2 separate regions of the Homo sapiens genome follow, and region 1 is linked to region 2. Evidence: fine-mapped expression QTL. Tissue or cell type: whole blood. Region 2 holds a variant in brackets; the other region holds the start of a gene. All regions are shown on one strand. Distances are between the middles of the regions.

Region 1 (2,758 bases), 190 kb after region 2:
GGAATGATGAACCACCCAACTTGAGTTAAAAAGAAACAAAAGTACACCACTGTATCTTAATAAGTATCCAGTCTTTGGGTTAAAATTGTATTCTCTTTCCCCAGTTTTAGTCATTTTGTAACAAATTTTAACAAGCCTGATAGGTATTTCATGGCCATGTCTGAAGTTGGCTGAACTTAAGCATCCCTATATAACACACTTTACACTTAGTAACTTGCTAGTTACCTATGGTTAACAAATGTTTCATATGGTATGTTTTTAAAACTTTCAGTGAAACACTTTAACATTTTTAACCCAGCAAAACAAACAAAAACTGTGTCTAATAACCCACACGAGTAGAAAAATGACCTTAAGCTTAACCTTAAACACAGATATAATAAGTAAAACAAATGGAGAGAAGTCCATCTCTATTCAGGAGGCAGAAGAACCCCCCCTGCCCCCAACACACACAAAGACGGGTGGCAGTGGAGGGCAGGCTCATAAACCAGAGGTGTAATGGACAAGTCGAGCGATTCCTCCCGTTTTCCGCATTCTGCAACCCTCGGTCGCTCAGTGGTGCGGTTAGGGCAGCAATCTATAACCTTCATTCCAGAAGACCCCAGCACTTCTATGTGGTGTCCAAACACAACTGGTGAGCAAAGAAAGGGCTGAAAGACAGGCCAGGCCGTGCTACTCAGGGACGTCGGACCTAGGGCAAGAAACCTTTACCACTCTCATTCGAAATCGGAGCAATGGGTCTATTACGGAAAAGACTTCTTAGGAAGGTCTCCTAAGACAAAGGGCTGCGAGTCAGGAACCATCCCCAAGCTCGGGAGCCGGGACCGAACCGTCCCGGGCCCGTATCCGCGCAGCCTGCACCCCGCGCTGAGCTGGCGCCCGACCGAGCCGCCCACATTCCGAAGTATTCGGAGACCCCCACCTAGCCGGCCCGAGCTGACCCTCTCCCCAACCCGTACGCCCGCGGACCGAGCTCCTCACCCTGGTGATTGAACAGTCTCCATATTCTAGTGAAGAGAATTCCCATTCTCGGGCAGCGGACCCCCCCCCTCCAGACACCCGGGCCGCCTGGCTTCCCCCGGCTCAGGCTGAGGGGGAGGAGAGAGACGCGCTGGAGCCTCCGCCTCTGCTGCTGCTCCCGCGCTGGTCGCGGGCCCGCTTCCAGGGAACCGGAGGGAGGCCGAAGCCCAGGCCGCCCTGCCGCGCGCAAGGCCCCGCCGCTGCCGCCGCGGCACTCGCCTGGCTCGCGGACATCGCCGCCGCGTTGTCTGCGACGAGCCTCGCGGGCCACCGTCCTCCCCCAGCTCCTCTCGGGCGGCTGCGGTGGCGACGACCACGCGGGCGGGGGAAGTGAAGGGGCGGGCCTGGAGGGACGTGAGTGCGCAGGCGCGCGGCCAGAGGGGCGGAGCGTAGGAAAGGGCGCCCGCCCTGTCCTCGCTTATTTGCATAACCAAGACTGCGGAAGGCGCAGGACTTTACCCTGGGACTGAGGCTGTGAAGACCGCAAGTTGGGGCAGATGGCTTCCGACTGCTTGCTGTTGCGTCCCCGAGTATTTATATTTCCCTCGAATCTTCTCCACTGCGCCATAATGTAAACATATAATTGAGTACCCCATGTCCATCCCCAACCCTTCACATACACTACACTTAAAGTTCCACGTCATGACTCTTTAAGACATTGTGTCCCCTGTGGGTCTTTGAGGGAAAAGTCTGCTGCCCTCTGACACTCAGCTGAAGTCAGTGGCCTTACCTAGATAGTCACCTTAAAGCCATTTTTGCACTTCAGGGCTCTTTTCTCTCCAATCTCTTAACTCTCACGTCAGTATTGCCCAAAACAACGATTTTGATCAAGTCACTACCCTGTTTAAAAACCTTTAGTGGCCACCAAAGCTCCATCCCTTTCTGTTCTCGTTAACCTTAGTAAAAAGGAAAATAAAGAAAAATTGGGAGACTTGTAGGAGCCATTTGAACTGCTTTGCACTCCCATCCCCAACAGCTGAATGAAATTAAGCAAAATCAGCAATAAACCGCACCTTCCCAACTCACTTCTCCTAACTACCCAGTATTTTACCTCAAAATATAGAAAAGTAATTTCGTTGACTTCTTTTGGGGCTTTATGGTTAAAAAGCCAAAGTTTAGAGGAGCCATACATGAAGGGAAGGAAAATCATAGTAATCCATATTAATTTATGTATTATCATGTCTGGATTTACTTAATATTCTGTACACTGTTTAGAAGAACAATGTAGTTTGTATAACCAATTTGCATTAACTCTGTAATATTTCCATTCTCGCACACCGTAGGTAATGCTTTGGTAGCTCTAAGACTTTTTCAGACTCCCACACAGATGTCAACTTATGAAATGGATGTCATATACACATTATGTGATGGCGGAGCTTCATATTTTACAATCTACCCAAGGAAATGGTCTCCCAGGTTATTTTCCGAGTGAAGAAAGAAGAGAGAGAGAGAGACAGAGACAGAGAGTTTAAAGACCAATTTATCTATGATTACAGAGAAATGCAAAATGTCATTGGAGAGACTTCTGACTTCAGGCATGAGAGAGTAGGATGGTTTGAATATATCCTCCTACCATTAGCAAATAGAAAACTGCACAAAGTACAGGCAACGACATTTCAGATATTGAAAAACACATCACAGTACTGTGATTCTTTGCAAAAGAGAAAGGAACAGGTGGAGTCTTACCATTTCCTGGACTTTATCCCTAAAAGCAATTCCCAGTCAACTACGGAGGAAGTGG
Region 2 (2,726 bases):
GAATGGAATTGACAACTCACGTCACTGATGATGTCCCTGGAGGCCTTGGCCGCCACGATGGGGATGGCGTCGCTTCGCAAGTCATAGCCTTTCTTCTTTGCTTCTTCATTAGCAAGTTTGTACAGACTCTAAATTTGGGGGAAAAAAAATCAGATGCTGACATTTATATCTAAAAACTGACAGAGGACTAAGACAATTCACTAAGTTCTCCACAGACAGTGCCTATAATAATCTTTCTTTTGAGAGTTCTAAGCCTTCTGCATGTTTGTTGAAGTGAAGACTCAAAAATGAGGCTAGGTGTGGTGGCTCACACCTGTAATCCCAGCACTTTGGGAGGCAGAGGCGGGTGGATCACCTGAGGTCAGGAGTTCGAGACCAGCATGGCCAACATGGTGAAACCCCATCTCTACTAAATATAAAAAAAATTAGCTGGGTGTGGTGGTGCATGCCTGCAATCCCAGTTACTTGGGAGACTGAGGCAGGAGAATTACTTGAACCTGGGAGGCGGAAGTTGCAGTGAGCTGAGATTGTGCCAATGCACTCCAGCCTGGGCAACAAGAGTGAAACTCCATCTCAAAAAACAAAACAAAACAAAAAAAAAAGATACCCATAAAGCCCAATGCACCTTTATTTTTTACTTTAAAAATTATGTTGAATTAAGTATATATACATATTACAGGTTGTTTTAAAAAATTTTAGTTAAAACAATAAATCCAGTTTAAAAATTACAGGAAAAATTAAGCTGAAACTCATAGTTCTAGCATGGTAAAATGTGGGTGGGAGGGAAAGGCTTAACTGTTGATCATGGCAATCAATTCAACTCACATTTATTCTGCCCTGACCCTGTGTCTCTGACTGTGCGGGGTACTTGGGAATCAAAGATGAGGTTGAGACCCCTCTCAACCTAAAGGTTCCTGGGAGAACTGATGGAGAGACTGATAACCTGTGGAAGCAACTGCTGAAAAGTCAAACCACACTAATAATGAAGAGCTCCAGGAAGGAGTCATTTATTCTGAACTGAGAATCAGGGAAGTTCTTGAAGATGGGGTGACCTTTGAGTTAGACTTTGAGCAGAGTTTCAGTAGACTAAGGTGGCATCAAGTGCAGAGGAAATCACGTGAATCAAGGCACCACTGTGGAGGGGAAGCGGAGGGGTGTTGAAGGAAGTGGGTGAGGCCCCAGGGAGGAGTTCACAGGAGAGGGCTGAGAATAGCCCAGAGTTGGACTGTGAACGCCTCATTCTAAGAAGTTGGTGTTTAATTCTACAGAAAATAGGAAAGCAGCCAAAAAGTTCTCTTCTTTTTAACATCAGAGGGGAGCGCCCATGGCAGCGTCCCAGTCTGGGTGGGTGGAATAGGGGGTTGCGGGCAAAATGGGGAAGGGCACCTGGGCCTCCTGGGACTGGCAGCCGAGTAGCCGCACTAACACATCTCTGAGCTTTTTCAGCAAAGACAGAGTTGAGAAATCCAGAAATGCTGACTAGCTAGACACAGGGGG[A/G]GCCCTTTGTTTCCTGAAATTCTTGCACATGTAATGCATGGTTTCCTGTAACAGGACCTATATTATAGGTTTGGCTAATAATTCAGTCCTTTCTGACAGGGGAGTAAGACTTGATGTTTTTAGTTTTTGGTGACAATTAAAAGCTAGCTATACAAGCACTAAAATTACAGTCTCACTTCCAAAATAATTACTTAAGATGGTGGCAATTCCATCTAAATTCTCTAAATTATGCTCTGTGTGTTGATTTATGCTGCCAAATAAACAATATTTTCCTTGCTGGTGGCACAAAGCCAGGTGAAATAACTAACACATCAGCTGACAGAATCTTAGATTCACAAAAATCTCCACAGGCTTATACCCACAGGCTCAGTCTAAGAAGAAGAAATTACAGAGATAAATGCCAATCTTTGAACAGAGATAAATTACCAAACGCATAAATGCAGGATGGAAGAAACCTAACTTTAGTCCACATAAGATGTCTTAGAGTTTAAGTTGGTCTCAAGTTCTGTGTGCACCAGCAGTGACAGCTGCCAATGTATCCTGGGAGCACAGGATGCAGAATAGAGGTCATATGTCCAGAAGAGGAAATACGATAGTTAAGTGTATTCTACATCAGTCATTCCCCACTCATAGTATTTTGCTCAGTTCTGAGAGTCACATTTTACTAGTGATGTCATGTGAGGAATGCCCCGCAGCTTGGGATATTGGATTTGAAGGTGAACCTGGGGTGAAGGTGGCAGGGGAGGCACCCTGGTGCTGCTCTCCATCTCTGGGGGTTGGCACAGATTTGTTCTGTGCAGCTTCAGAGGACTATGTGAGTTTACAGAGAGAAATGTTGTGACTCAATACATCAGAAGCTTTCTCATAAATTTTCCAGAACGAATGGACTGATTTATGAGATCAGCTCCTTGTCACTGGGAACCCTTAAGCAAAGGCAGGTCAAAAACCTATTTGTGGGGAGGGGTACCTTTGCACTAGGGTGGAGGCTTGACTCTCTGCCTAAGCCTCTATGATTCTGGAATGATGGCACGTGGCCCTGTGCACACTGAAAGTGAAAGGAAATGGGCTTGCTAATATTTACACTGACAGATATTTCTCTCTCTCTGTGTGTGTGTGTGTGTGTGTGTGTGTGTGTGGGTTACCTGGTAGTACTGTGGATTTTAGTTCTTGCCTTTAATCTTATATACTAAAAATCTTAAATTTGGATCCTAAACCACACTTAGGAACAA

Evidence for each region. PIP is the estimated chance that this variant, and not a neighbour inherited with it, causes the effect.
Region 1: ARL5A starts here. The variant in region 2 is fine-mapped to the expression of ARL5A in whole blood (INTERVAL, PIP above 0.99). The same link has a PIP of 0.9 or more in non-classical monocytes.

The regions. Positions count from the first base shown.
Region 1 is chr2:151,827,153-151,829,910 of GRCh38, forward strand. ARL5A (ARF like GTPase 5A) reads right to left here and starts at 1,269. Exons shown (of 6, transcript NM_012097.4): 1 at 979-1,269. The coding sequence starts at 1,024. RefSeq lists silencers at 885-934, 985-1,494 and an enhancer at 1,545-1,594.
Region 2 is chr2:151,636,207-151,638,932 of GRCh38, forward strand. It overlaps NEB (nebulin), which reads right to left. Exons shown (of 182, transcript NM_001164508.2): 64 at 21-128. Among named protein-coding and RNA genes, the nearest start is that of NEB, 97 kb to the right of the region's middle. The variant A/G (reference allele first, on the strand shown) is at 1,498.